Linked DNA regions of Homo sapiens: region 2 is linked to region 1. The links come from fine-mapping of genetic effects on gene expression. A gene starts in region 1. The other region holds a variant in brackets. All regions are shown on one strand. Distances are between the middles of the regions. Region 1 holds the start of GCFC2 (GC-rich sequence DNA-binding factor 2). Region 2 has its middle 120 kb from the start of GCFC2.

Region 1 (16,399 bases):
TTAAAACGAGTTTCTTCATGCATGATCTAAGCTGAAATTTATCTTCATTCTGGAAAAAACGGTTTCTTAAGAAAAATACTACATTAAAGAAACAGCGAGAGAAATTTTCACCATTTTAAGCACTTCAAACTACTAAAAAGATGTCAAGCTACTGAGGCTGAAGTGAAATTTTCTAAACTTTCCCACAAGTTGACCCAAATTCTTTGAGAAATAAACAGAAAAATGCCATGTACTTGGAGATGCACAAAAGCTCCCATGTTTGAAACAAACAAAAAAAGAGAAAGATTTTAGAAATCACAGACCAATATGCTTGACATCAGCCCTAGGGAAAATTAAAAGTCCTTGAGTGAATCATGAAGCAATAAAGAAATCACTAGAAGTCAATAAATATTCATCAAGAACAAGTAATAGAAAATGAAGTGATTTGCTTTTTTATAGATTAGTAATTATTTATAGACTACTGTCAGGGACATGATGAAGGTCAGGTGTCTCTTCCTCCTCCCAAAGCATTTAAGATTCAAAACCATCACAGCAGGTTATAGTAGCAATTCTCGACCCTGGCTACACATCAGAGTCACCTGAGAAGCTTGACATACCCAGGCCTCTATACCAGTGATTCAGATGTTGATCTGAGGCAGAGCTGAGCAGAAGTATGTTTTTATAGCTCCCTAGAGGATTTTAATGTGCAGGCAGGATTAAGATAAGACATTTAGGTTCAAATACTCAAGTGTATGAATGTGGACACAGAAATACTTATTTTGGAAGTGATTTTCTTGCAGGTGACTCGGTAGGGTTTAATTAGTAAGTCACAAGCAATGGGACACACTAGTAAGATATTAGTGCTACATAAAGGTAACTGCTCAAGTAAAAATAAAGAAGTAAAAAACCAAGGAAGAGAAGAGTATTGCGTTTGTCCTGTTTCTGCATATTCAATACCTCGTTCAAGGGTTCTCACACAGCAGATGCTGGGCAGACATAGGAGGAATCAATAATGTCAGCATATTGTTCAATAATAAATACATCATGTTTTTACAAATTTATAACTTATGAATAATTCTTCACATATATCATCCTATCTGATATGCAATCATCTAGGGCTGAGAGGTAAATTATCATCTTCTATTAGTAACAAGTAATCTCTGCTAGAGGGACTATTTTGAGGCAGTTATTCATCGGAACACAAATAAATGCTCTTCTTCCACATGCCAGCCCTTAAAATTAACACATTCCTCCATCTTTTCTTCGCCAGCCAATAAGTCCTTCGAACTTTCAGGTGTTCCTCACAGGACAAGTTTTCAATTTTTAATCAGCGTTTCTCAATGTGCATAGGGGATGGGCAATTCACTGCGCTGAACTGTTCTGCACTCCTGTTAAGACATTTATCATCCCTTGCCTCTAGGGCACTATGTGCCAGCAACAACTCAACTACTATAATCATTTAAATAATCCCACACATTTTCAAACGCTGCCCTCTCTCCTAAGGTGGGGGCAGTGCTGCCAACACTTTACAACCACTGCCTTATCCTGTTTAATCCACCATCTTTTTTTGTTTGTTTGGTTTTGAGATGGAGTCTTGCTCTGTTGCCCAGGCTGGAGTGCACTGGCATGATCTCTGCTCACTGCAACCTCTGCCTCCCAGGTTCAAGCAATTCTTTTGCCTCAGTCCCCTGAATTACAGGTGCATGCCACCATGCCTGGCTAATTTTTACATTTTTAGTAAAGCCAGGGTTTCACCATTTTGGCCAGGTTGGTCTCAAACTCCTGACCTCAGGTGATCCATCCACCTCGGCCTCCCAAACTGCAGACATGAGCCATGGCACCTAGTCTAATCCGCCATCTTTTATAGTAGCATTGTTTGGTACAGTAGCCACTAGCCCTATGTGAGTATTCAAATATAACTAAAAATTCAATTTCTCAGTCTCGCTATAGCCACATTTCAAGAGCTCAACAGCCACTTGTGACTAGTGGCTACCATATGGACAGTGAAGATAGAAAATTTTTCCAAACCACAGAAAATTTTACTGAATAGCACTGTATCTAGAATCCAGACAAGGCTTCAACTGTTTACTAGATTTCAGTTCTTAATATTGGCTTAATCGCTTAGTATTTCTGTACCTTGTGGACATGGAGAAGAAACAAAATTACAAGGTTACAGAGCTACTGGTTGTTGTTATTTAATAGGCTAATAAAGAAGCACTTATGGCCGGGCGTGGTGGCTCACGTCTGTAATCCCAGCACTTTGAGAGTCCGAGGTGGGCAGATCAAGAGGTCAGGAGATCGAGACCATCTTGGCTAACACGGTGAAACCCCATCTCTACTAAAAATACAAAAAATTAGCCAGGCGTGGTGGCCTATAGTCCTAGCTACTCAAGAGGCTAAGGCAGGAGAATGACGTGAACCTGGGAGGCGGAGCTTGCAGTGAACCCAGATTGCGCCACTGCACTCCAGCCTGGGCGACAGAGTGAGACTCCATCTCAAAAAAAAAAAAAAAAAAAAAGAAGCACAGAAGCACTTATTACTATATTACAAGCGTCATAAAATATATTTTAATAATTTTATTTCAATATAATTTGTTTCCTCTACAAAGCTATGTATTTTACTTTATTTTCTCAGAAGGGATCTTAGGCTTCACTAGACTGAAAAAGGAGTCCACGGCACAAAACAAGTTATAAACCTCTGTAAGACGCCAGATAAATATTTTTCACTTTGCGGGCCATAGGGTCTTTGTGGCAACTTCTCAACTCTGCTGCTGCAGTGCAAAAGCACCCACAAATATTAAGTAACTGAAAGACTGTGATTGTGTTTTAATAAAACTTTGTTTACAAAAACAGGTGGTGGGCCAGATTTGCCAACCCCTGAACTAGACTGATCTTTCTAAGACACAAAAACATTCATGTCATCTGTATAAAATTTTCAGTGGTTCCCTAAGCCCTGTATAATCTGACTCCAACTTGTCCTTCCTGTTTTCTTTTCCTTAAACTCGCAACCAAATACTTTCAGCCAGAGCTATTTTTAGCTTCCTGCACATATTACATACCTTCCCTAGAGTTTCAGATATGCTACATCCTATACCTGAAACATCCTCCCTGACAAATTCTTACCATCCTTCAAGTATCAATGTCAATCACCCAGTATAGCACAGTGATTAAGAAGAATACAGGCTCCAGAACAAACTGGGTTTGAATCCTAGCCCTGCTACTTATAAGCTGTCTGACCTGTGCATGTTAAAATGTAATAAAAATGAGCAATTTTGGCACTCTGACAATCATCATTAATGACCTACTTGCCCCATGTCACTAGAGTTTGTTATGTCATTAATAACTATATCAAAAACACTATATTAAAAATAAAATTCTTAACCAAAATCATACAAATTACTAACCTGTTGATGAAAGTTCTTTTTCTCCAAGAGAGCTAGAACTGTCAGAAGACAAACCCTGATCATCCTTACTTTCTGAGGAGTGATGTATTTTATCCTCTTCATCTGTGGACACATCAAGGGTTCTGGATTCTAACAGGACATTTTAAAAATACAACAAAAAAGAGTCAAAATAATGGAATTATTAATTGAAATTCTGAACAACACATGGCATATGTATAATACGGTGTTTTAATCCTAGTCCATATATTAAAGTAGACATATTGATCTTCCTCCAACTTTCTTTCTTAAGCAACTGAATGATCTACTAAGTGTACAAAGACCCTATTTGTATTATCTAGGCATCTAATAATATATTTCCAAAAGTATGCAATGAGAAAAGGGAAGGAGGCATTAGAGAAAAAAAAAGCGACAAAAAATGAAGTAATATTTAGAATAGTAATGATTGTGAATAAGTAGAAAAGAAAAATATTTAATGTATACTATGTACTAGGCACACTGAAACCTGTTTTACATGACTTATTTAATACCTGTAATTCTATAAAGTAAATGCAATTTCTGATGAGTTCACTAAGGATTGAGAGGATAAAGAACACCAACTCGGGCAGTGGAGAAGCAGGGCTGTCAACCTAATCCCAGGCAACTTCAGAACTTAGGCTCTCTTTATAGTATGCCATATTTCAACGGCTGGTGGCGAGAAATATTGTAACGAGCACTTTGGTCAATATTAAACCATGGGTCCATCTTTTCAATGCATGATTTGGGAAGGTAAATAGTCTGTTAAATTCAATTAATCTGTTAAACAAAGATAACACCAAGATAAAACCCACAGGGGTGTTGTGAAAATTGAATGAACAAAATAAAGGAATTCTTGACATTATTGACAAGAAAGGATTTCTTAATCCACAATAAATTTGCAATCTTTATGAGTAACCTTAAAACATAAGATTACATACTACTCATTAATTTTAATTTTCTACCTTAGTTAGAAGACCTACATACAGTTCAAAAAAGGCTGGAGTAAAATCAAAATTTAAAACACTAAAAAAAATATAGCTGCAGCTCACATCTTTCTTAGATATTGTCATTTATGACAACCCATACCTGTTTCCAAAGTGGATTAACACCAAAGCAGTGGGTCTTAAAGCATGGTTTATCAATCCCTGGAGGTCCTTGAGACTCTTTCAGAGAGTCTGTGAAATTAAAACTACTTTCATCACAATAATAACATGTTATTTGTTCTTTTTACCATGTTGATATTTATATAATGAAGTAAAGGCAGTGATGGGTAAAACTGCTAGGCTCTTGGCATGAATGAATCAATTTGTAGTAGCAGTTATGGTATTTTTCCTTACCTCACATGGCAGAAAAAAGCCAGTTGCTCTTCATGAACTAATTAAAAAATTGTTATTTTATTAAATTTTGACCCTTGAGTACACATGTTTAATATTCTTTGTGACAAAATCAAAGTATTCATAAGGCACTTTTGCTGCATCTTGAAATGCAATGGCTGCCTTAAGGAAAAGCATTTGTGTGACTGAGTTGCAAGCTGAACTAGACGTTGTTTTTAAGAAGCATCACCATTTTACTTGAAAGAATGACTAACAAACCGATTATTCAGACATGGCTATCTGACAAACATTTTCTCAAAACATGAGCCCGGTTGTGCCTATCAATAAAATGAGAGATTTCAAGTGAAAATTGAGATTTTGGAAAACTTATATTCTCTACTGTGAACCTAACAGCTTTCCAGTACTTACAGACTGATTAATCAGTGGTAATACTATGATTTTTTTGGTATTGTACAATAAAATGCTCCAACATTTGCAAGATCTGCAAACTCAGCTAATGAATACCTTCCAAATAATGCAAGATGTTACCAATCGTTCATGAGTAAAAGATCCAAAGTACAAAACAGAACAGAGTTTTAAGGTAAGAGCACCCCAAATTTAATCATATGGTTTAAGAATCCATTTGGCAACTTTTTTTTTTTTTTTTTTTTTTTTTTTTGAGATAAAGTCTCACTCTGTCACCCAGGCTAGAGTGTAGTGGCACAATCTCAGCTCACTGCAACCTCTGCCTCCCGGGTTCAAGTGATTCTCTGCCTCAGCCTCCTGAGTAGCTGGGATTACAGGCACCCACCACCATGCCTGGCTAATTTTTGTATTTTTAGTAGAGATGGGGTTTCACCATGTTGGCCAGGCTGGGCTCGAACTCCTGATCTCTTGATACACCTGCCTCGGCCTCCTAAAGTGCTGGGATTACAGGTGTGAGCCACTGTGCCCGGCCCGCAACTAACTTTTAAGAAGGGTTAGTTTATTACTTGTTGAGCTGTGTTATATTAAAGCACAACACCCTCAATGATCTAAAAATGCTATTAAGTACTCGTCTTAATCATGTATCTGTCAGAGGCTGTATTTTCTTCAAATACTTCAACCAAAACAAAATAGCACAAGAGATTAAAAGCAGAAACACCTATGACAATTCATCTGTCTTCTATTAATATTTTGCCAGACATTAAAGAGATCTGTAAATTGAAAACAATGCTACTCTTCCTTTTTTGGGGTAATACTTTTCACAAAAATCTTACTTATCCTTACATGTAATAGATTTTTTGTAAGTGAATTAATAAATTTTATTTTTAGTGTGATAAATATTGATAGGTATAACCTACTGAAACAAAAGCTCTTTGGAATCCTTAATCATTTCTAAGAGTCTAAAAGAGGTCCAATTCCCAAAGAGTTTGAGAACCACTATTCTAGAAGGCAAGAGAAAAGGAACTCCTGACTTCAACTTTCATCTACAAAGTTTAACCAGAAAACAAATATAAAAGGTCATGAAAACTTTAGACAAATAGAAGGTCACAAGAAAGACCAAGAAATCACGAAGATCATAAACCTGGAGGACATTATGTTACATGAAATAAGACAGGCACAGAGAGACAAACACCACATGATCTCACATATGTAATCTAAAAAAGTGGAAATCAGAAATCACAGAAGCAGAGAGTCGAGTAGTGGTTAGAAGGGACTGAGTGAGGTTGAGGGTAGTTGGGAAGATACTGGTCAAAGGGCACACATTTTAATTAGACAAGAGGAATTCTATTCTACAACACGGTGACTAAAATTAATAACAATGCATTGCATACTTGAAAATTAGTAAGAGTAGATAGTAAGTGTTCTCACCACAAAAAAAAGTAAGTACCTAAGGTAAAGCAAATGTTAATTAGCTCCATTTAGTCACTGTAGACACATTTCAAACATCATGTTGTACACTATAAGTATATACATTTTTTACTTCTCAATAAATTAATAAAAATCACTTTAATGACAATAAAAAATAATAGGAAGATTTTAGCTCTCAAGACTAACCAAAAACCGTATTCCTCATTAAGCTACAATTCCAACTCAGAGCAGCACATTTTATTTAAACAACTTTATGCTGCCTTACACCTGTATTTAAGAACTCAAAGGTACTTCAAAATGACGACACTATATCTAACACCATTACTGGTACCATCTACAGTGTCATGAATCTCTATCATGCTTCTTTGTGTTGTATATATTACTATTAGTTTTTGCAAATAACTGGTGAAAAAAGAAAATAAACAAAGGGGAATGTCCCAAAACCTAGATTCCTGTACTACTCTGGCTAAATGTTTTCAAGAAAGATAAGTTGGTCAAGTGTCTAAAAGGTACATATAACTTCTGCCCACTTAATAGTATTATAAATTATTGAACTTTGTTGTGACAGTTTAGGTTCTTCATAAACTTTGATAACTGTGTTAGTTATAACTGATGGAGTCAACTGATGGTGAAAACGAAGAGCCTCCCAACTGTACACGATTGTTTTATTTCCCCCAAGGAGTCCAAAAGGCAGATGCAGATAGCGGGCAAGTGCTCGAGCTATTTTCTCGCTCACTACCTTCTGGATAAGTCTTTCTGGATAAGACTCAGCATGGCTTGTGGTCGGCAGCAAGTTATAGAACCCCCAGAGAAGGATCCAGAGACCCCGCGGCCCCTTCCCGCCCTGTGCCGTCACCTCCCCGCTTCCCCGCGTCTCCCTGGACACCTGAGCCTTCGTCCGCGCGGGGAGCCGCTTTGGTGGCACGCCGGGAGCTCGCCCAGACCCGGCCCCGGCCACGAGGGCCCCGAACCCGGTGGGGCAGTCCCGCCACCTGCGCGCGGCCTCCTCCAGAGGGCGGCTCTTCCTCCGCAGAACCCGGGACCGGAAGTTCCCTCGGCGCCCCAGGCTCAGCAGGCGACTCCTCGGCGCCATCGCTGTCGCTGGAATCAGCCGCGCGCTGCCGAAAAGTCCTTTTCGGCCTGTGAGCCATGGCCGAGGCCCGAGCGCCCGGCGCCCTAGAACCCGCTGAACCGCAAGCCGCAGCTTCAGTGCCCGCCCCCTAGGGCGCGCTCCCGCCGCGCCTGGCCGCCGAGTGCGCGCGCCCGTCCCGCCTGCCTTCTGCTCACCGCTACTCTGTCTGCGCCTGCGTGCTTTGGCTCCCTGGATCTGGTAGGCCGAGTTCTGTTCTGGGGCCTGAGTTTGCAAAGCATTCCCTTTGCCAGGTTAGGTTGCGTGGACTGACACCTTAGAGATTTTCACGGCCTATCCGGTCTGAGTCCCACGGAGAGCAGAACTCACGTGCTGTCCTTGTGCAAACCCCATCCAGAAATCAAGCGTTATGCTTTCCGTCCTGGACTGGAGCCAGATCCGTTGTCTTTTACTTTCTGGAGAGAGTGCCCCCTCCAACCAAGATTTAAAACAAACGAAACCCCAGCAGTGTGAGGCTCGGGGTAGGAGGAGATGCCTTTGAGAACAAAACCATAAAGTCTGTACATAAACAATGCATACAGACTAGCAAAAATCAAATGACTTCCCCCAGGCAGCAGGGCTTCAAGAGAGCCTGGTTAAATGTTTTCACCCTTAAAGAAACTATCTAAAAACAAAAAGCTATTGTCTGACGCAAATTTGTTCTATATTCATCAAGCTCTGTCTACTACTGTATCTGTATGGTAGAAATACTATATAATGTTGAGCTACTGCACACCTGTTATCAACTCCATGTTTAGTGGCGTCATATTGAGAGGTGACAGCGGGCCAGCTGGAGTTCCGGGTGGGCATGGGCTTGGCGGGCCTGCACTCGGAGCAGCCGGCCGGCCCTGCCAGCCCCGGGCAGTGAGGGACTTGGCACCCGGGCCAGCGGCTACAGAGGGTGTACTGGGTCCCCTAGCAGTGCCGGCCCACCGGCGCTGTGCTCGATTTCTCGCCGGGCCTTAGCTGCCTTCCCGCGGTGCAGGGCTCGGGACCTGCAGCCCGCCATGCCTGAGCCTCCCATCCACTCCATGGGCTCCTGTGCTGCCCGAGCATCCCCGACGAGCACCACCCCCTGCTCCACGGCGCCCAGTCCCATCGACCACCCAAGGGCTGAGGAGTACGAGCGCACGGCGCCGGACTGGCAGGCAGCTCCACCTGCAGCCCCGGTGCGGGATCCACTAGGTGAAGCCAGTTGGGCTCCTGAGTCTGGTGGGGACATAGAGAGTCTTTATGTCTAGCTCAGGGATTGTAAATACACCAATCAGCACTCTGTATCTGGCTCAAGGTTTGTAAACACACCAATCAGCACCCTGTGTTTAGCTCAAGGTTTATGAGTGCACCAATCGACACTCTGTATCTAGCTGCTCTGGTGGGGCCTTGGAGAACCTTTATGTCTAGCTCAGGGATTGTAAAAACACCAATCGGCACTCTGTATCTAGCTCAAGGTTTGTAAACCCACCAATCAGCACCCTGTGTTTAGCTCAAGGTTTGTGAGTGCACCAATAGACATTCTATCTAGCTGCTCTGGTGAGGCCTTGGAGAACCTGTGTGTGGAAACTCTGTATCTAACTAATCTGATGGGGATGTGGAGAACTTTTGTATCTAGCTCAGGGATTGTAAACGCACCAATCACGGCCCTGTCAAAACAGGCCGCTGGGCTCTACCAATCAGCAGGATGTGGGTGGGGCCAGATAAGAGAATAAAAGCAGGCTGCCCCAGCCAGCAGTGGCAACCCGCTCCGGTCCCCTTCCACAGTGTGGAAGCTTTGTTCTTTCGCTCTTTGCAATAAATCTTGCTACTGCTGACTCTTTGGGTCCACGTGGCTTTTATGAGCTGTAACACTCACCGTGAAGATCTGCAGCTTCATTCCTGAGCCCAGCGAGACCACAAACCCACCAGAAGGAAGAAACTCCAAACACATCTGAACATCAGAAGGGGCAGACCCCAGACGCGCCACCTTAAGAGCTGTAACGCTCACCGCGAGGGTCCGCAGCTTCATTCTTGAAATCAGTGAGACCAAGAACCCACCAATTCCGGACACAATATTGGCACCTTGAAATCAGCCATAAAGGGACTACTTATACCATATAAATTGGAAGACCTTAGAAGTCCAGGTGTTTCTCCCAGATATCCAGTCATTAAACATTTACCATTGTATCACTGACTATATGTCACCAAAGGAATCGAGAAGAGGCAAAGTTTCTCTGATTGACCTAGCCCCGGAATTTTTTTTTCTTGGCTTTGTCTTTTTTTCTTGGCTTTTCTCAATAAACTGAAACTCCTTGATGTAAATTTGGGAAATTATATGATACAGTATTATCAGTTATTCACAAGTTATTAATGTCTTATTATAAAGAGAGGCTTCTCTTTTTAAATCCAGGTAAAATTAGAGAACTACTTGTTTTTTTGTGTGTTTCTTTTGGAAAATTGGCAAATGGTGTGAAAAAGATATTTCTGGAGAATAGAGATACTTGTGGCATCTGAAAGAACAGCTTCCTATCATGGACCAAGTGCTCCTTGTAGTTAGAATAAACTTTAAAGATTGGAGATGGAGAAGTGGGTTCCGTTCGGTCCAGTGCTTTTCAGATGCCATCTTTCCATGCAGAATTCCCAAGTTCTGCCATGGATACTGCTCTGTACTCCCTTAGCAGAGGAGGACATCTTTCCAAATTACACTATAAAGTAGTTAATGCTAAACCAAACAGGAGACTATAATTTTTAGTTTAGTTAATTTTATGGACAGAGTCTCGCTCTGCCACCCAGTGCGATGGTGCAAATACAGCTCACTTCAGCCTTGACCTACTGGGCTTAGTGATCCTCCCACCTTAGCCTCCTGAGGATCTGGGACTACACGCGCATACCCCAATGCCCAGCTAAGACTAGCATTTTGAAACAGTGAGGAGAATGAGGAAGATGATCGTGATTGTAATTGGAGAGAAATTCAGTGTTCTGTTATGCACTCTTAAGGAAACATATTAATATATCGTACAATTCAATCAGTGTTTATTATACACCTACTAGCACAGGCACCATGCTAAGCCCTAGACTAATGCTTATCAAATCTAATGTTCTTCAAAGCACATGGAAATAGTGTGGACATATAGATACTGATTGAGCTGCTATGTGTAGGAACCAAGAGTCTTCATTTCTAGCAAGCTCCCAGGTGAAGGCGAGGATACTTGTCTGAGGATCACTCTAAATAGCAAGGTCCTAGAGCAGATACTAAGTATTAATCACCCTTAAGAAGGCTGGGCGCAGTGGCTCACGCCAGTAATCCCAGCACTTTGGGAGGCCGAGGTGGGCAGATCACGAGGTCAGGAGTTCAAGACCAGCATGACCAACATGGTGAAACCCCATCTCTACTAAAAATACAAAAATTAGCCGGGCGTGGTGGTGCATGCCTGTAATCCCAGCTACTTGGGAGGCTGAAGCAGAAGAATCACTTGAACCCAGGAGGCGGAGGTTGCAGTGAGCCGAGACCGCACCACTGTACTCCAGCCTGGTGACAGAGTGAGACTCCATCTCCAAAAAAAAAAAAGAAGTCTTAAAAAATAGTCTAAATAACTTAATCATTGATGAACTTCATATCAGATTGTAACAGCATGTAAATGTTAGGTACCTCAAAATTTAGAAACCTAAATAGCCCCCCAAAAGGAAAACTAATAAGAATCTATTCAAAGTGAGTAAGGTTATTTAAGTGTAGAAGTTGTTCACCATAAGGGGATATCTGTCTGCACCTCCTCAAAAAGGGTTCTCTGCCAGCTTCCAAAGTCATTTTAGGTGTTTGTTGCAATTGGAAAGGGGGTCAGCAGGACAGAATTCACTCCCAGTGTTGCTTAAAAGGCAGCAGTTTATTTAAGGACAATCTAAGTGTGATGTTGGTGTTCTAGAAGGCTGTTCTTTCCCTTCAAAAGTCACTAACTCACAAACGATGTTAAACCAAAATGTGAAAACGCTAGGCAGAGTTTACTGTTCTCGGCTGAGTTCAGAGCCATCTGCTAATGTGGACTCATTGTTTACTTTCCCATTTTAAAAGACACTGCCTCCCCAGACAGAGCCCTTCTTTTACTCATTTTGATATCCTATACCTAGTTTAGTGTTTAGTGCACAACTGACATGAACACAATGAACTAAATGGTTGGATGAGGCAATTCTGAAACATCTGTGTTCACTCACGAAAATAAAACTGGAAAACAAGTCACTCTAACTTGTTAAATGCAAACATGTTAAGAGATAGGTGATATATGATGGAGATAGAAAAAACTCTGCTATTTAAAACAGAAATCAAACATTTGTTCTAAGGGAAAGAAGTGAGAAAAATTATTTTCTCTGGGTGTTGCCTTGGTGGGAGAGGATGAAATAAAGATAACTTATTTAATAAAGGGGGAGGAATCCTGAGTTTTCTCCTCTGTCCCCAGGGAAAGCAGAGCGATGACTCTGAGGGATAGTTGCCAGATTTAGAAAAAATATAGAATACCTGGTAAAACTTGAAATTCAGATAAAACAGGAGTAGCTTTTTAGTATAAATAGGTCCTATATAATATTTGGGACATACATGCATGGTAGATTTTGGAACTCTAGGGTAAAGAGAAGTGTGAAGAATTTCAAAGGGTAGAGAAAAACTTCAGAATCTGAGGTGGAGGGTGGGGGATGGTTGTAGTCTGGAATCTGAGAGAAATGAGGGTCAGTGAGAAGTTCCCAGTTACATGGGAGAATCGGATGAAGTGCTTTTTAGATACAGTGCAGTTTTCTTCCAAGGATTTAGTAAAACTTTGCTCCAAATACAATCTTTTTTTTTTTTTTTTTTTTTTTTTTCAGACGGAGTCTCGCTTTGTTGCCCAGGCTGGAGTGCAGTAGCGCGATCTCAGCTCACTGCTACCTCCGCCTCCTGTGTTCAAGCGATTCTCCTGCTTCAGCCTCCTGAGTAGCTGGGATTACAGATGTCCGCCATCACGCCCTGCTAATTTTTGTATTTTAAGTAGAGACAGGGTTTTGCCATGTTGGCCAGGATGGTCTCAAACTGCTGACCTCAGGTGATCCGCCTGCCTCAGCCTCCAAAAGTGCTGGGGTTACAGGCATGAGCCACCGTGCCCAGCCTCCAAATCCAATCTTAACATTGCTGTTGAGATTGAAAGAGTTGGCAGCTGAGGTCAGGTGGTGGATGAGGAAAAGCTGGTGGCTCCACGATTCTGAGCTGAGGGTGTCAAAGGAGATGGAGTGGATGATAGGAGAGAAGCAGGCTACTGAACACGCTGGCTTAGGAGTGGCTGTGAGATAGCCCCTTTCCCCAAATGTACCCAAATGTACCCAAGAAGGTGCAACTTTAAAGTAGAAGATGCTCCACGGAGTTACCTATGGGCACAGGAAAAGGGCAAAGAGCAAAACTATATTTCTCCAAACAGCTTTTCCCGATACTCATATTTACCACTGCCTTATGTAATTTCTCATTTTCATGAATACTAGGATTTTTACCACCATCCTTCATCAAGCAGGTAGAGATAATGCCATATCTTTTTATTTGCCCTACTGTGTTTATTTACAATATTAGCTTATTAAGTAATTGGCTGATCATTATGAGAGTTTGTATTATTTCCCTTTTATGTCATTTAGAATTGCAGAGGTTAACAATGGGAAAAATTGGCATATTAAAAATTCCCAACTTCTGGAAATCAATGTCATATTTACCCAAACAGACTTTTCTCCCTAAAGTGAAGTGACATTTTATCCAGCGTGTCTTGCCATTTAATGGTGGATTCTGAGCTCCCTCTAGTGAGAAATGCGCTTCTTATAAACGGATTGTATCAAATAATCTCATGGAAATTGCCTCCTATAGAGCTGAGTAATGAATATATTTTCCTTTTAAGCCAGGCTCTTTAAAACTTTCTAAGAGGACAAAATTTTATGAAGTCATGTTTATAAGTCATTTTTTTAATTAAAAAATTACTATGGAAACACATTCATACAAATATGAAACTAACTGTGCTTTCATTTTTTCAGCATCTATTTTTTTAAGCACTTACTATGATAGGGGCCCTGCGCTGGGACCAGAAGGTCATGAAACACATGGGGTCCTGTTCCAAAGGTCAGGTGTGAGGAACCCACATTAGCCCTAGGATCTGGTTTATTGGAAATACTTTATGATATCCTGTAATCCCAAGTATTGAGAATTTTCTCAATTTTAGGTCCTAATTTTCATAATGAATAGAGGTCTTTGAGCTGTCACTCTTATGTGCCTGAACTAATCTATTGATTAACTGTCAGATACCCCAAGGACCATCAGAAAAACCTATTGATCAACCAAAGTCAAGTTTATAAGATTAACTACAGTAAGAGAGAACACCACCTTGACAGAATCTTATAAGTATCTGAAAATGAAAGAATAAGGCAGGGTATTTACAGAGTTTTAGGACCTAGGCTGGGCGATTTTGTTTTTGTTTTTGTTTTGAGACGGAGTCTCGCTCTGTTGCCCAGGCCGGACTGCACTGGCGCAATCTCGGCTCACTGCAAGCTCCGCCTCCCAGGTTCACGCCATTCTCCTGCCTCAGCCTCCCGAGTAGCTGGGACCACAGGCGCCCGCCACTGCGCCCGGCTAATTTTTTGTATTTTTAGTAGAGACGGGGTTTCACCTTGTTAGCCAGGATGATCTCGATCTCCTGACCTTGTGATCCACCCGCCTCAGCCTCCCAAAGTGCTGGGATTACAGGCGTGAGCCACCGCGCCCGGCCAGCTGGGCGATTTTTGAAAAAAATGTGTTTTACTGTGGTAAGAACACTTAATGTGAGGTCTATCCTCTTAACACATTTTCAAGTGTAAGATACAACATTGCCAACTATAAGGACAATGTTGTACAGTAGGTCTCCAGAACTTACTTATCTTGTACAATTGATACTTTATACCAGTTGATTAGTGATTTGTCGTTTTCCTCTTTCCCCAGCCCACAGAAACCACAATTCTACTCTCTGATTTTATGAGTCTGAATATTTTAGATACCCCATGTAAGTGGAAACACACAGTGTTTTTCCTTCTTGGTGGCTTATTTCACTTAGCATAATGTCCTCAAGGTTAATTCATGTTGTTGCATATTGCAGGATTTCTTTATTTTTTAAGGATGAATAATATTCCCTTCTCTCTATACAACACATTTCCTTCATCTGTTCATCCTTCACTTGACAAAACAGTACTGCTACTATGGAAAACAATATGAAGATTCCTCAAAAAATTAAAAGTAGAACTACCATGTGATCCAGCAGTCTCATTTCTGGGCATTTAGTCAACAGAATTGAAATCAGGACCTCTAAAAGATAATTGCACTCCAGTGTTCACTGCAGCACTACTCACAATAACTAAGATGGCATGGGTGATTTTCAGTTAGGTCTTGTAAGGAGGTCAAGGTGAAAGGAGTCATGTGAAATAAATCATGCTGTGCTAACCAACCACAAGCTATTCATGCAATGGAGATCAAGTTAAGGTCAAAATACATGGCAATTTATAGGCATTAAGAGGAACAATGTCAAAAAAGGTCAGTTTAGAGGGTGGTTATGAGTGCCTTTCTTCATTTTAAATCCCTTGCCTTTGAGATCTAGGAAAAATTCTAGAGTTTTCCTTCTATTCCAACCAATCAGCTTTCTAACAAATCCAGGCTTCTTTTCAGTGCCTCCACTAGGGTTTCTCATTTGAGGTACTGAATGAAAAACCTTTCACTCAATATGAAATGTAACACACATCCAGAAAAATGCACAAAACAAACATGTACAGTTCAAGAACTTATCATAAAGCAAATCCCTCCACAGCCACCAACAAAGTCGAGAAATAGAAGATTGCTAGCATCCCAGCACTCTCTTTTGTTCCCCTTTTCAATCATTTCACCCTCCCTGTCCCCAGAAGTAATCATTGTTCTGACTTTTACAGTAATCACTTCCTTGCTTTTTTAAAAATACAGTTTTACTGCAAGCACACATACTCAAACACTATGATGTAGCTTTGTCTGTTTTTGAACTTTTGAGATCATACCATCTGTATTGTTTTGTGCTTGGCTTTTTTTGGCTTAATATGTGTTTGTATTATAATTCCACATTGTTCTTCTGTGTAACTGTAGTCTACTATTATTGCTGCGTAACAGTCCACTGTATAGATATGCCACAGCTTATCTATCCTAATATCGTTGACATTTGGTTGTTTTTTTTTTTTTTCAGATGGAGTCTTGCTCTGTTGCCCAGGCTGGAGTGCAGTGGCATGATCTCAGCTCACTGCAACCTCTGCCTCCCAGGGTTCAAGCGATTCTCCTGTCTCAGCCTCCTGAGTAGCTGGGATTAGGTGTGCACCACCATGCCTGGCTAAGTTTTGTATTTTTAGTAGAGATGGGGTTTCACCATATTGGTTAGGCTGGTCTCAAACTCCTGACCTCAGGAGATCCACCTGCCTCAGCCTTCCAAAGTGCTGGGATTACAGGTGTGAGCCACCACGCTCAGCTGACATTTGGTTATTTTGATTTTTTTGTTATATTACAAATAATGTTATTAAAGCACTTGTGATACAAGTGTCTCTTTGGGTCATGGGCACACAATTCAGTTGGGTATAAACCTAAGAATGGAATCATTAGGTCATAGGGTAAGCATATCTTCAACTTCACTGGAAAATATCAGTTCCCAAAGTAGTAATTGCCTAAATTTACATTCTCATCAGCAGTGTATTAAAGTTTCCATG
Region 2 (16,399 bases), 120 kb after region 1:
AAAGGGACCTGTGCAAAACTGGGAATGGGATCATACTCCTGGCCCCCCAACATCTTCCCACTATGCTTCTAGTGGCAGAGAGCCACCTAGATGTTCTGCGAGGGCAACTCTGGAGTCCAAGGGGACCTCTATAAGCCTTGGGCCCTGAAACAGATCAACAGTGGCACCATAGCCCTAGTAGAGGCCATAGTTGCTGTTCCTAGAAGCAATAAGATTGCTCTACTCATTCTTGCCAGATGGGGCTTGGCACCAGCTCGTGATGCAATGGTCCTGCTTTGGCCCAAACTTGGCTGGCCACTCCACTCACCCCTGCCACTGGTAACCAGGTGGGCAACACTTACTGGAGCCTCCAACCCAGTAGCCCTTCTTTTGTGCGACCTCAGCAGAAAGGCGTAGCCTCATGATATCTTAGAAACAGGTGAACAGCAGGGTGCATGACCCTATCCACCCCCACCACTGATAGCCAGAAGGGCAACACCTCCTAGAGCTGCTGGCTCAGTGGCTCTGCTTCTGTGTGAATTCAGCCAGTGGGCACAGCCTCATGTTTTCCCAAGAAGTGCACAGACAGAGATCCCACCCACTGCTGTCACTGATAGCCAGGTAGGAAACAACTGCTAGAGCTTCTGGCCCAGTGGCCCTGCTTCTGTGGGAACTCAGCTGGAAGGTGTAGCTTCATGTTTTCCCAGGAAACACCCAGATGGCAGGGTATGTGACACCCCCACACCCCCACCACTTGCAGCCAGGAGAGCAATGCGTGCTAGAGTTTCTAGCCCAGGGGTCCTGGTTCTATGGAAACTCCGCCAGTGGGCACAGCCTCCTGTCATCCAAGGAAGCACTTGATGGCAGGGTGGGCATCTCTACCCACTCCCACCACTGGTAGCTAGATGAGCCACACCTGTTAGAGCTTCTGGCTCAGCAGCACTACTTCTGCCAGAATTTGCTAAAAGGCACAGCCTCCTGTTGCTCTGGAAAGACCTGGAGGGCAGAGCAGGCAACTCCACCCACCTCCACCTTCCAAAGCCAGATGAATCACAGCCGCTAAAGTTTCCAACCCAGTGGTTGAGTTTCTGCATAAACTCTGAGGCAGGCACAACCCTGTGTTTCCCCAGGAAGCACACGACCTGACAAGGATGTGATTTGTCTGCCAACTGTGGCCCCTGCTTGAGGGAGCTGCATGAACCAGAATACCCAACAAAATACCCATGGGGACAGAGAAGTAATCAGAGGGGGCTCCTCCAAGACCCAGGAGTGGACTAGAATCAAAGCCAGTTAATTGAATTGACCTTATACCATAACCAAACCCCCAAGGGCACCAAAGAAAAAAAAGCAAAAAAGAAAAATTGCATCTAAAGGACAGCAACTTCAAGCTTTGAAGGAAGATGAGCCCACACAAATGGGAATGAATCAGCATAAGAACTCTGGCAATGCAAAAAGCCAGAGTGCCTTCTTCCCTCCAAATGACTGCACTTGTTACCAAGAAAGGGTTCTTAACCAGGTTGAGATGGCTGAAATGACAGAACTAGTATTCAGAATATGGATAGCAATGAAAATCATCAAGATTCAGGAGAATGTTGAAACCCAATCCAAGGAAGCTTAGAATCACAATAAAATAACACAGGAGCTGATAGAACAAAATAACCATTATATATATATATATTATATATATATGTATATAAATATATATATTTTATATACGTATATAAAAATGTATATTTACATATATAAAATAAATATTTTATATACGTATATAAAATATATATTTATTTTATATACGTATATAAAATATTTATTTTATATATGTATATAAAATATTTATTTTATATACATGTATATTAAATATATATTTATATATGTATATAAAAATATATATTATATACATGTATATAAAATATATATTATATATGTATATAAAAATATATATGTATATAAAATATATATATTATATAGATATATAAAATATATATTATATAGATATATAAAATATATATATTATATAGATATATAAAATATATATATTATATAGATATATAAAATATATATATTATATAGATATATAAAATATATATATTATATAGATATATAAAATATATATATTATATAGATATATAAAATATATCTATATAATATATATGTAAAATATATATAAAAAACTGATTTGATAGAGCTAAAAACATACAAAAAGAATTGCGTAATGCAATCCCAAGTGTTAACAGCAGAATAGACCAAGCTGAGGAAAGAATCTCAGAGCTTAAAGACTGGATCTCTGAAATAACTCAGTCAGACAAAAAATAAAGAAAAAAGTATATAAAAAGAATGAACAAAACCTCCATGAAATATGGGATTATGTAAAGAGACTAAATCTTTGACTCACTGGTATCCCTGAAAGGGACAGAGAGAAAACAAGCAATCTGGAAAACGTATTTCAAGATATCATCCATGAAAATTTCCCCAAGCTAGCCAGAGAGGTCAACAGTCAAATCTAGGAAATGCAGAGAATCCCTGCAAGATATTTCACAAGAAGACCATTTCCAAGAAACATAATCAGATTCTCCAAGGTTGAAATGAAAGAAAATGTTAAAGGCTGCTAGAGAAGAGGGGCAGATCACCTACAAAGGGAGCCCTGTCAGGCTAACAGTGGGCCTTTCAGCAGAAAACCTACAAGCCAGAATAGATTGGGAACCTATATTCAGCATTTTTTAAAAAAAATTTCAACCAAGAGTTTCACATCCAGCCAGACTAAGTTTCATAGGTGAAGGAGAAATAAGATCCTTTTCAGACAAGCAAATGCTGAGGGAATTCATTACCACCAGACCTGCCTTACAAGAGGTCCTGAAAGGAGCACTACGTAAGGAAAGGAAAGATCATTACCAGCCACTATAGTAACACACCTAAGTATATAGATCAGTGATACTATAAAGCAACCACAAGAACAAGTCAGCATAGTAACCAGCTAACTACATGATGATAGAATCAAATTTGCTCACATCAATACTAACCTTGAATGTAAATGGGCTTGAACACCCCAAGTAAAAGGCACAGAGGGGCAAGTTGGATAAAGAAGCAAGACCTAATGGTATGCTGTCTTCAAGAGACCCATCTCATGTGCCATGACATCCATAGGCTCAGAATAAAGACATGGAGAAAAATCTACCAAGCAAATGGAAAACAGAAAAATGCAGAGGCTGCAATCCTAATTTCAGGCAAAATGGACTTTAAGTTGACAAAGATCAAAGAAGATAAGGAAGAGCATTATATAATGGTAAAGGGTTCAATTCAATAAGAAGACTTAACTATCCTAAATATATATGCGGCCAACACAGCAGCACTCAGATTCAAAAAGTATGCTTTTAGAGATCTACAAAGACTTAGTCTCCCACATAAAAATAGTGGGAACATTCAACATTCTATTGACAGTATTACACAGATCATGGAGTCAGAAAATTAACAAAGATATTCAGTACCTGAACTCAACACTTAGCCAAATGGACCCTCTCCACCCCAAAACAACAGAATATACATTTGTCTTATTGCCACATAGACCCTACTCCAATCAGAGTATGAAACACCCAATCAGATATGAAACAACATTCAGCAAATTCAAGAAAACTGAAATTATATCAACCACACTCTTGGACCATAGCACAATAAAAATAGAAATCAAGACTAAGAAAATCACTCAAAATCATACAATTACATGAAAATTAAACAACCTCCTCCTGAATGACTTTTGGGTAAACAATGAAATTAAGACAGAAATCAAGAAATACTTTGAAACTAATGAAAATAAAGATACAACATACCAGAATCTCTGAGAAATAACTAAGGGAGTGTTAAGAGGCAAGCTTATGGCCCACATCAAAAAGTTAGGAAGATCTCAAATGAACAACCTAATATCACAACTAGAAGAACTAGAGAAGCAAAAGCAAAGAAACCCCAAAGCTAGCAAAAGAGAATAAATAACCAAAATCAGAGCTTAACTGAAGGAAATTGAGTCACAAAAAACCATGCAAAAGCTCAATGAATCCAAGAGTTAGTTATTTTAAAGAATCAATAAGATAGATAGATCACTAGCTAGGCTAATACAGAAAAAAGAGAATCCAAATAAACACATCTGGAAATGACAAAGGGGACATCACCACTGACACTGCAGAAATACAAAAAACCTCAGAGACTATTATGAACACCTCTATGCTCACAAACTAGAAGTTCTAGAAGAAATGAATAAATTCCTGGATGCATACAACCTCCCAAGACTGAACCAGGAAGAAATTGAATCCCTGAACAGACCAATAATAAGATACAAAAGTAATAAAAAGCCCACAACCCCCCAAAAGCCTAGGACTGGATGGATTCACAGTTGAAATTTACCAGATGTATAAAGACGACTCCTTCCCAACTCATTCTGTGAGGCCAACATCATCCTGATTCCAAAACCTGGCAGAAACAACACAACAAACCAAAACTTCAGGCCAATACCCTTGACAAACATAGATGCAAATATCCTCAAGAAAATACTAGCAAACTGAATTCAGCAGGACATCAAAAAGCTAATCCATCATGATCCAGTAGGCTTTATCCTTGCAATGCAAGGTTGGTTTAACATACACAAACCAGTAAACGTGATTCATCACATGAACAGTACTAAAAATAAAAGCCACTTTATTATCTCAGTAGACGTAGAAAAGGCTTTTGATAAAATTCAATATCCCTGTATGTTAAAAACCCTTAGTAAACTAGGCACTGAAGGAATAAATATCAAAATAATGAGCCATTTATGACAAAACCACAGCTAACATCAGATTGAATGGGCAAAAGCTGGAAGCATTTCCCTTGAAAACCAGCACAAGACAGGGATGCCTGCTCTCACCATTCATAGTTAACATAGTATTGGAAGTTCTGGCAAGAGCAATCAGACAAGAGAAAGAAATAAAAGACATCCAAATAAGAAGAGAGGAAGTCAAATTATCCCTGTTTTCTGAGGACATGATTCTATTTCTAGAAAACCCGGTAGTCCTTGGCCGAAAGCTCCTGATCTGATAACAACTTTAGCAAAGTTTCGGGATACAAAATCAATGTACAAAAATCAGTAGCATTTCTATATACCAACAACATCCAAGCCGAGAGCCAAATCAGGAATGCAATTTCATTCACAGTTGGCAAAAAAAGAATAAAATACCTAGATATATAGCCCATTAAGGATTTGAAAGACCTCTACAATGAGAATTACGAAATACTACTCAGAGACATCAGCGATGACACAAACAAATAGAAAACATTTTATGCTTATGGATGGGAAGAATGAATATCATTAAAATGACTATACTGCCCAAAGCAATTTATAGATTCAATGCTATTTCTATCAAACTGCCAATGATATTCCTTACATAATTAGATAAAAAATTTAAAAATTCATACGAAACTAGAAAGATCCCAAATAGCCAAGGCACTCCTGAGCGAAAAGAACAAAGTTGGAGGCATCACATTATCCTAATTCAAACTATACTACAGGGTTATAGTAAACAAAAACAGCATGGTACTGGTACAATAACAGAAACATAGACCAGTGGGACAGAATAGAGAGCCCAGAAGGAAGGCTGCACACCTACAACCATCTCATATTTGACAAAGTTGACAAACACAAGCAATGGAGACAGGACTCTTTATTCAATAAATGGTGCTGGGATAACTGGCTAGCCGTAGGCAGAAGACTGAAACTGGACCCCTACCTAACACAACATACAAAAATCAACTCAAGATAGATCAAATACTTAAATGTAAGCTCTAAAACTATATAAATGTAAGCTCTAAAACTATATAAATGTAAGCTCTAAAACTATAAAAATGTAAGCTCTAAAACTATAAAAATCCTGGAAGATAACCCAGGAAACATCCTTCTGGACATAGGACTTGGCAAAGATTTCATGATAAAGACACCAAAGGCAGTTGCAACAAAAGCAAAAATTCACAAGTGGGACCTAATTAAACTAAAGAGCTTCTGCACAGCAAAAGAAACTATCAATAGAGTAAACAATCTACAGAATAGGAGAAAATACATGCAAACTATGCATCTGACAAAGGTCTAATGTGCAGCATCTATAAGGAACTTCAACAGATTTACAAGAAAGGAAAAACACACTAAAAAATGAACAAAGGAAAGGAACAGACAATTTGCAAAAGAAGACATACATGCGGCCGCAATTATGTGAAAAAACCCCTCAACATCACTGATCATTAGAGAAATGCAAATTAAAATCACAATGGGATATAATCTCACACCAGGGCTCTTAAAAAACAAAACAAAACAAAGCAAAACCAAAAAATCAGATGCTGGAGAGATTGCAGAGAAAAAGGAACAGTTATACACTGCTGATGGAAATATAAATTAGTTCAGCCACTGTGGAAAGCAGTGTGGTGATTCCTCAAAGAACTTAAAACAGAATTACCATTTGACCCAGCAATCCCATTATAGGGTATATACCCAATGGACCATATGAATCATTCTGCCATAAAGACACATGCATGCATATGTTCACTGCAGCACTATTCACAAGCAGAAAGACATGGAATAAACCTAAATGCCCATCAATGTTAGACTGGATAAAGAAAATGTGGTACATGTACACCATGGAGTACTATCAGTCATAAAAAGAATGAGATCATGTCCTTTGCAGCAACATGGATAGAGCTAGATACCATTATCCTAAGCTAAGACAAGAACAGAAAACCAAATACTGCATGTTCTCACTTATAAGTGGGAGCTAAACAGCAAGAGCACACGGATACTAGGAGGGGAACAACAGATACTGGGGTCTACTTGAGGGTGGAGGGTGAAAGGAAGCAGAGAAGCAGAAAAAATACCTATCAGGTACTATGCTTATTCCCTGGGTAACAAACTTATCTGTACACCAAACCCCCATTACAAGCAATTTACCTATATAACAAAACTGTGCATATGCCCCTGAACCTAAAATGAAAGTTAAAAAATGAAATAAAATCACCTGCCTACAGACAATCCTATTGGTATTTTAGAGTATATTCTTTCAATAATTTCACTGTCCATTAATATACACACACATTTTGGAAAAATAAGATTACCCTATTATTATTATTTCTGTAAACTGCTCTTTTCACTAATGCACGGCAAAATTTTTTTCAAAGCCGTTAAGTATTCTTTTCAATATAATTTATACTCATTCAGTTTATCTAAGTAATTTATTTAATCAATCTCCTATTGTTAATAAGTTATCTCTTTCTCCAGTTTTTTTATTTTTTATCATTATTAGCAGTGGTTTAATGCACCTCATTTGATCAATTTCCAAATATTTAATGAGCGTTTAGTATATGTCAAGCCTCATACATGGCTGAATACAAACAGACTTGGTTCCTAACCTTAGGCAAGTTAGTGTAGTGGGAGATACAAATTATAAACAAGTAAATCAACAGGCTTAGGTATTTTGTGGTTGCCCCAAGGAGAACAGGATTAACCCCTACCTAAATTAGTCATGATGGTGAGACTGATGATGCTGCATGCACCAAGAAGGTATGAATAGGTTTATTACTCACATCATGAGGCTCTCCCGAGAGAGCAGGGCAGGTGTAAATTAATCCAGATGGCTTAAGCGAAGTGGAAAAAGTGGACTGGGCCATTATAGTGGCCGTAGGGTGGGGCCTTGTGAGGTTTGGACTGCTGCTAGCAGCAAGGATTGGGCAGACAGGAAAGTGGAACAGGGATTCAAAAGCTGTCAACAGTTTTACATCAAAAAAGGTGTCAGCAGGCCGGG[C/T]GCGGTGGCTCAAGCCTGCAATCCCGGCACTTTGGGAGGCCAAGGCGGGCGGATCATGAGGTCAGGAAATCGAGACCATCCTGGCTAACATGGTGAAACCCCGTCTCTACTAAAAATACAAAAAAAATTAGCCAGGTGTGGTGGCGAGCGCTTGTAGTCCCAGCTACTCAGGAGGCTGAGGCAGGAGAATGGCGTGAACCCAGGAGGATGAGCTTGCAGTGAGCCGAGATCGCGCTGCTGCACTCCAGGCTGGGTGACAGAGCGAGACTCCGTCTTAAAAAAAAAAACAACAACAAAAAACAAACAAACAAACAAAAAACAAAAAAAAGAGGTCAGTCTGTTTATTGTAACAGGTAATTAGAAATTGAGGAAATGCCATGAAGACAATAACTTGGAAGAAAATTATTGAGTTATTAAATTGGGGGGCTCTGGGAAGGTTGTTCTGAGAGGTGACATACAAGTTAAGAAGTTAAGAGTGAGAAGGAGCCAATCAGATAAAGAGCTGGGGCAGGAGCCTGTGAAGGGAACAGCCAACACAAAATGAAAGACAGTTTGTCATGTCTGAGGAGGGTTATGAGAGAGTGGGAGTGGGCACCGAGATGAGAGACAAAATTGTTGAGGTAGGCAAGAGTTAGATCCTGCAGGGCATAGTAGGCAATATTAAGAAGTTTGCATTGGATTTGTTTGTGCAAGAGGAAGACACTGATGTTTTAGGCAAGGGAGTGACATTACCTGACTTGTTTTTAAAATATCACTTCAGTTGTTATGGAGAGACTATATCGTTGGTGCTAAGTGTGGCAGCAAAGAAAATAAGAAGTTATTTCAGTAGTCCAGTAGAGATATGACGGTGGTTTAGGCGAGAGGGGTGGCAGGGAAGATGAAGCAAAATGAATGAATGATTCATAAAGATTTGGAGATTACTGATCAGAATATTGTGGCTGAATGGAGGGTATGAGTAGAGGATTGAACTAACTCCAAGTCTTCTGCCTTGAACAATTGGATAGGTATTGGTGCCATTTATTGTAGTGCATTCAGTAGTGGAGACAAGATATTTAAAGGGGGAATGAGTGGCAGGGTTTGGTTGGGGAGTAAATTCAGGAATTTGGTTTTTGACAAGTTAGCTTTGATAGGCTTATGACATAGCCAGGTGGAGATGCCAAACACGTAGTTGAACAAATGAATCTGGAGCTCAGAGGTGAGGTTGTGATGGAAGAATAAATTTGGAAGTTGTTACCACATAAATGACATTTAAAACAAGAGACTGGTTCAAACTGTCAAGGGAGAGAGTGCAGGGAGAAAGGTGGGTTAAAGGAGGAGTTCCCAGGAAACATGATGAGGAAGTTTCCAGAATAGTAGGAAGGAAATGAGGAGGATATGCTGTCATGGAAGCCAGAAAGGAAAATATAGCAAGAAAGTTGGAGGGGCCAACTTTGTAGAATGTTGCTGAGATGTCAAAAAACGGTAGACCTTAAAGTGCCTAGTGGGTTTTGCAACAGGAGGTCACTGGTGACTTTGAAGACCTTGTCAGTAACGTAGTGGGTGTGAAAGTGAGATTAGAGTTGGCTGAAGTGGGAGGTAAGAAGAGAAGACAATGTGTGCAGACAACTTTTTCAAGAAGTTGTCCTTTGAGGGAGCAGAGAAATTTGGTAGTAGCTGAAGGAAGATATTGGGAAGAGGGCTTTATCAAGATAGTTTGAGTGCTGATGGGATAATTCTTGTGGAACAGCTTTTGGGAACATTCATTATTAACTCCATAAATTACATGAGAGGCTGAATAGCACAGAGTTTAGGAGCATGGGCTGTGGAGCAGGCTGCCTGGGCTCTATCCCTTAGTGGCTGTGCAACAACCTTGGGTGAGTATCTTAACTTTGTCTCTGCCTTAATTACCTTATTTGTAAAATGGGGATAATGACACTAATAGTACCTACCTCATCAGGATGTTGTGAGGATTGAATAAGTAAATATTTGCTAAGTTCTTAGAATGCAGCCTAGGACATTCATATAGTACACATTATATAAATGTTTGCTAAATAAACAAACATAAAATACAAATGATTATAAGCAGAATTTCTAAGACATAGAGTACACACATTTTAAAGCCTTTGGTGATACCAAATTGCTTTTCACAAAATATCACCAGCTTGTGTGTTCATGGGCTGTCAACAAAAGGGTTAGTTTCTGGACCTCCTTACCAACATGAGGTAATATATATCAAAAACACTGCATTTTGCAAGGCAAAAAAATATATATATATATATTGGCTGTGTCCCCACACAAATCTCATCTTGAATGAATTATAGCTCCCATAATTCCCTCATGTTGTGGGAGGGACCCAGTGAGAGGTAATTGAATCATGACGCGTTTTCTCCCATACTGTTCTCGTGGTAGTGCCTAAGTCTCATGAGATCTGATGGTTTTATAAGGGGAAAACCCTTTCACTTGGCTATCACTCTTCTCTTGTCTGCTACCATGTGAAATGAGCCTTTTGCCTTCCAGCATGATTGTGAGGCTTTCCCATTGATGTGGAACTGTGAGTCCACTAAACCTCTTTCTTTTGTAAACGGCCCAGACTTGGGTATATCTTTATCAACAGCTTGAAAACAGACTAATACACTGAGCATTTTTAAAAAGCTTGTTGGCAATTTAAGTTTTTTCTAAAATAAGTTGCCTATTTTTGTCCATTGTTTATATTTTCCATTGTGGTGTTTTGCTTTTCTCGTATTGCTTTTAAAGAACTAGTAAGGCATCAGACTTGAGACTTTTTTCTCCTTTTGTCATTTGCTTTTTAAGTGATGATTTGGGGGCCAAAAAAGGTCTTATTTGTGGTGAAATATTTACTTTTCTATATTTTTTCTCTCTTTTACTGACAAATGAGATACTCATCTATGTTCCTTCTTTTTTTTTAGTTGTATTTTTTGAATTATATTTATAATCCAGCTGGAATTTATTTTAGTGTATAGTATAAAGTATGCATATAATTATTTTTACACAAATATTTGAGCAGATTTACCAACAACATTTATTGAATAATCTATTCTTCTCTTGCTAATTAGACATAAATCCTTCATTATATGTAATCATCTATAAATATTTGAGTCTGTTTCTGCTCTTTCTATTCTTTCTATTGTTCTATTCCTGTTCCAATGATCTGTTCTTTCTATTCTTAATTTAGTGCAAAACTCTCAATTATAATGTCTTTGCAATTGAAAATTTAAATAAAACATATAAATATAATCTGAATCTGATTTTGCAAAATCCATTACTTTTTTTTTTATTTTTCAAAATTGATCACTTGCTTCTGCCTGGTGACTTTTTAAATTTGAAAATTAATATGTTTTAAAGTTCTACATAAACATTCTGGTAGGATTTGTATTACCCTTATGAAATAATTTAGGATTATTAAGGCTCCCATGATATGGCTTCTGTGATAGGTAGTGCATTGAGTGTGGGCAAGAACTGTGACTACTATGGGATATCACTCCCATGATTAGGTCACTAATTAGTTGATTTTTGAGTTAGTCAAAAGTGAGACTTTCCAAGTGGGCTGTACCTAACCAAGAGAGCCCTTAAAAGGGCCTTGGACCTCATTGCAAAAGAGATTTAAAGTGTAACGGGAATTTCATGCAAGTGAGATTCTCCGTTAATAACTTTGAAGATGGGAAGGGTCTATGCAAGTAAAAACCAGGGAGTCGCTGGTTGGAGCTGAGAGCAATCCCTAACTGACAGTCAGCAAGGAACTGAATTCTGCCATCAATCTAAATCATCTTGGAAGAGAACCAGATTTGAGATCCAGAGGAGAGCACATCCTTGTAACACCTTGATTTTGATTTTGGTCTTGTGAGATCCTGAGCTAATGACACGAACCCAGTCGTGTCATGCCTGGACTTCTGACTCACAGAACTGTGAGTTAGTAAATGGATGTTGTTTTAAGTTATTAAGTTAGTGGTAATTTGCTAGGCAGAAATAGAAATGTAATGCAGTTTTCATTTATTAAATTCTCCACTGTTGTAAACCTCAGTAAAGTTTTATATATGGATCCAACATGTTTATTGGTAAGTGTATTCCTGAGTGTATTGGTCAGGGCTCTTACTTACAGACAAATAATCCTCTAGCTAGTGCCAGCAGAAAGAAGACACCCCTGCCCCCCGCCAAAAAGCTGAGTATCTCACAGAAACCTTGGGAAAGTTGGAGAACCAGGCTTAGATGCCAGAAAGCCAAAAACAAAGCAGCCGGGGGAAACTGCCTAACCACAATATGAGACTATTCTAGCAAAACTAGCTGCTGATGTGTTACTGCTCAGCACCTCTGACACATTCTGGATGCCTGAAACCCTGCTACACATGCCCTGGAGGAATAAAACTCCTCAGCCATGAAACTTGCCAGAAGATCTGGCTTTCCTGCCTGTAGCTACTTATTTTTTTTCCTAAGTTTCATGCTGATGCTTCTGCTTGGTGGAAACCAGGCAATATATCAAATTTTACCTTCAACAGAGGCTGGAACATGTAGTTTAAGGCTATTGGCCTATCTAGTAGAAGAAAGAAAATTAGAAGAGGGTAGAAAGAGGTGCAGAATGAGCCAGCTTACAACATCCATGATTCCATGCATTTTATATTTTGTTGTTATTGTGAAAATGATCATTTGGTGAGGAACGGTGCACTCCAGCCCAGATACTATGCTTTTCCCACGGTCTTTGCAACACGCAGACCAGGAGATTCCCTCTGATGCCTAGACCGCCAGGGCCCTGGGTTTCAAGCACAAAACTGGGTGGCCGCTTGGGCAGACACCAAGCTAGCTGCAGGAGTTCTTTTTCATACCCCAGTGGCGCCTGGAATGCCAGCAAGACAGAACTGTTCACTCCCCTGGAAAGGAGGCTGAAGCCAGGAAGCCAAGTGGTCTAGCTCAGTGGCTCCCAGCCCCACAGAGCCCAGCAAGCTAAGATCCACTGGCTTGAAATTCTCACTGCCAGCACAGCAGTCTGAAGTCAACGTGGGACACTCCGGCTTGTTGAGGGGAGGGGCGTCCACCATTACTGAGGCTTGAGTAGGCGGTTTTCCCCTCACAGTGTGAACAAAGCTGCCAGGAAGTTCAAACTGGTTGGAGCTCACCGCAGCTTGGGAAAGCCACTGTAGCTGAAATACCTCTCTAGATTCCTCCTCTTGGGCAAGGCATCTCTGAAAGAAAGACAGCAGCTCCAATCAGGGGCTTATAGATAACACTCCCATCTCCCTGGGACAGAGCACCTGGGGGAAGGGGTGGCTATGGGCGCAGCTTCAGCAGACTTAAACGTTCCTGCCTGCCGGCTCTGAAGAAAGCAATGGATCTCCCAGCACAGTGCTCAAGCTCTGCTAAGGGACAGAATGCCTCCTTGAGTCGGTCCCTGACCCCTGTGCCTCCTGACTGGGAGACACCTCCCAGCAGGAGTCAACAGACATCTCATACAGGAGAGCTCTAGGTGGCATCTGGCAGGTGCCCCTCTTGGTTGAAGCTTCCAGAGGAAGGAATAGGCAGCAATCTTTGCTGTTCTGCAGCCTCTGCTGGTGATACAAGCAAACAGCATCTGGAGTGGACCCCCCGCAAACTCCAGCAGACCTGTAGCAGAGGGGCCTGACTGTTACAAGGAAAACTAACAGAAAAGAATAGCATCAACATCAACCAAAAGGACATCCACACAGAAACTCCATCTGAAGCTCACGAACATAAAGGCCAAAGGTAGATAAATCCACAAAGATGAGGAAGAACCAATACAAAAAGGCTGAAAATGCCAAAAACCAGAAAACTTCCTCTCATCCAAAGGAACACAACTCTTCACTAGCAAGGGAACAAAACTGGATTTAAAATGAGTTTGATGAATTGACAGAAGTTGGATAATAACAAACTTCTCTGAGCTAAAGGAGCATGTTCTAACCCAATGCAAGAAAGCTAAAAACCTTGAAAAAAGGTTAGACGAATTGCTAACTAGAATAACCAGTTTAGAGAAGAATATACATGATCCAGTGGAGCTGAAAAACACAGCACAAGAACTTTGTAAAGCATATACAAGTATCAATAGCCAACTTGATCAAGTGGAAGAAAGGATATCAGAGATTGAAGATCAACTTAATGAAATAAAGCGTGAAGACAAGATTAGAGAAAACAAAATGAAAAGAAATGAACAAAGCCTCCAAAAAATACGGTACCATGTGAAAAGACCAAACCTATGTCTGTTTGGTGTACCTGAAAGTGATGGGGAGATTGAAACCAAATTGGAAAACACACTTCAGGATATTATCCAGGAGAATTTCCCCAACCTAGCAAGACAGGCCAATATTCAAATTCAGGAAATACAGAGAACACCACAAAGATACTCCTGGAGAAGAGCAACCCCAAGATACATAATCATCAGATTCACCAAGGTTGAAATGAAGGAAAAAATGTTAAGGGCAGCCAGAGAGAAATGCTGGGTTACCCACAAGGGGTAACCTAGATCAAATTAACAGTGGATCTCTCAGCAGAAACCCTACAAGCCAGAAGAGAGTGGGGGCCAATATTCAACATTCTTAAAGAAAAGAATTTTCAACCCAGAATTTCATATCCAGCCAAACTAAGCTTCATAAGCAAAGGAGAAATAAAATCCTTTACAGAAAAACAAATGCTGAGAGATTTTGTCACCACCAGGCCTGCCTTAGAAGAGCTCCTGAAGGAAGCACTAAACATCAAAAGGAAAAACTGGTACCAGCCACTGCAAAAACATATCGAACTGTAAAGACCATAGACACTATGAAGAAACTGCATCAACTAACGAGCAAAATAATCAGCTAGCATCATAATGACAAGATCAGATTCATGCATAACTATATTAACCTTAAATGTAAATGGGCTAAATGTCCCAGTCAAAAGACACAGACTGGCAAATTGGATAAAGAGTCAAGACCCATCAGTGTGCTGTATTCAGGAGACCCATCTCACATGCAAAAACACACATAGACTCAAAATAAAGGGATGCAGGAATATTTACCAAGCAAATGGAGAGCAAAACAAAGTGGGGGTTGCAATCCTAGTCTCTGATAAAACAGACTTTAAACCAACAAAGATCAAAAAAGACAAAGAAGGGCATTACATAATGGTAAAGGGATCAATGCAACAAGAAGAGCTAACTATCTGAAATATATATGCACCCCATACAGGAGACCCCAGATTCATAAAGCAAGTTCTTGGAGACCTACAAAGAGACTTAGACTCCCACACAATAATAGTGGGAGACTTTAACACCCCACTGTCAATATTAGACAGATCAATGAGACAGAAAATTAACAAGGCTATCTAGGACTTGAACTCAGCTCTGGACCAAGTGGACCTAATAGACATCTATAGAACTTTCCACCCGAAATCGACAGAATATACATTCTTCTCAGCATCACATCATACTTATTCTAAAATTAACCACATAATTGGAAGTAAAACACTCCTCAGCAAATGCAAAAGAATGGAAATCATAATAAACAGTCTCAGACAACAACGCAATCAAATTAGAACCCAGGATTAAGAAACTCACTCAAAACCACACAACTACATGGAAACTGAATAAGCTGCTCCTGAATGACTACTGGGTAAATAACAAAATGAAGGCAGAAATAAATAAGTTCTTTGAAACCAATGAGAACAAAGACACAACGTACCAGAATCTCTGGGACACAGCCAGAGCAGTGTTTAGAGGGAAATTTATAGCACTAAATGCCCACAGGAGAAATCAAGAAAGACCTAAAATCAACAACCTAACATCACAATTAAAAGGAGAAACAAGAGCAAACAAACTCAAAAGCTAACAGAAGACAAGAAAAAACTAAGATGAGAGCAGAATGAAGGGAGATAGACACACGAAAAGACCCTTCAAAAAAATCAATGAATCCAGGAGCTGGTTTTTTGAAAAGATCAACAAAATAGACCACTAGCCAGACCAAGAAAGAAGGAAAGAGAGATGAATCAAATAGACAAAATAAAAAATGATAAAGGGGATACCACCACTGATACCACAGAAATACAAACTACCATCAGAGAACACTATAAACACCTCTATGCAAATAAACTGGAAAGTCTAGAAAAAATGGATAAATTCCTGGATATCATACACCCTGCCAAGACTAAATCAGGAAGAAGTTGAATCCCTGAATAGACCAATAACATGGTCTGAAATTGAGGCAGTAATTAATAGCCTACCAACCAAATAAAAGCCCAGGACCGGACAGATTCACAGCCAAATTCTACCAGAGGTACAAAAAGAAGCTGGTACCATTCCTTCTGAAAGTACTCCAAACAATAGAAAGAGAGGGAATCCTCCCTAACTCATTTTATGAGGCCAGCATCGTCCTGCAACAAAAACCTGGCAGAGACACAACAACAAAAGAGAATTTCAGGCCAATATCCCTGATGAACATCAAAGCAAAAATCCTCAATAAAATACTGGCAAACCGAATCCAGCAGCAAATCAAAAAGCTTACCCACCACGATCAAATTGGCTTCATCCCTGGGATGCAAGGCTGGTTCAACATACACAAATCAATAAATGTAATCCAGCACATAAACAGAACCAATGACAAAAACCACATGATTATCTCAATAGATACAGAAAAGGCCTTTGATGA

What was found. PIP is the estimated chance that this variant, and not a neighbour inherited with it, causes the effect. A credible set is the group of variants that fine-mapping cannot tell apart.
Region 2: its variant is the best candidate, but not a certain one, in a credible set for the expression of GCFC2 in whole blood (TOPMed, PIP 0.54).

What each region holds. Positions count from the first base shown.
Region 1 is chr2:75,703,141-75,719,539 of GRCh38, forward strand. GCFC2 (GC-rich sequence DNA-binding factor 2) reads right to left here and starts at 7,775. Exons shown (of 17, transcript NM_003203.5): 1 at 7,451-7,775; 2 at 3,383-3,511. The coding sequence starts at 7,715. It overlaps LOC105374813 (a long non-coding RNA gene), which reads left to right and starts at 7,799. Exons shown (of 3, transcript XR_940260.2): 1 at 7,799-7,894. RefSeq lists a silencer at 7,307-7,606 and an enhancer at 8,585-9,156.
Region 2 is chr2:75,821,514-75,837,912 of GRCh38, forward strand. No RefSeq gene overlaps it. Among named protein-coding and RNA genes, the nearest start is that of GCFC2, 120 kb to the left of the region's middle. The variant C/T (reference allele first, on the strand shown) is at 7,782.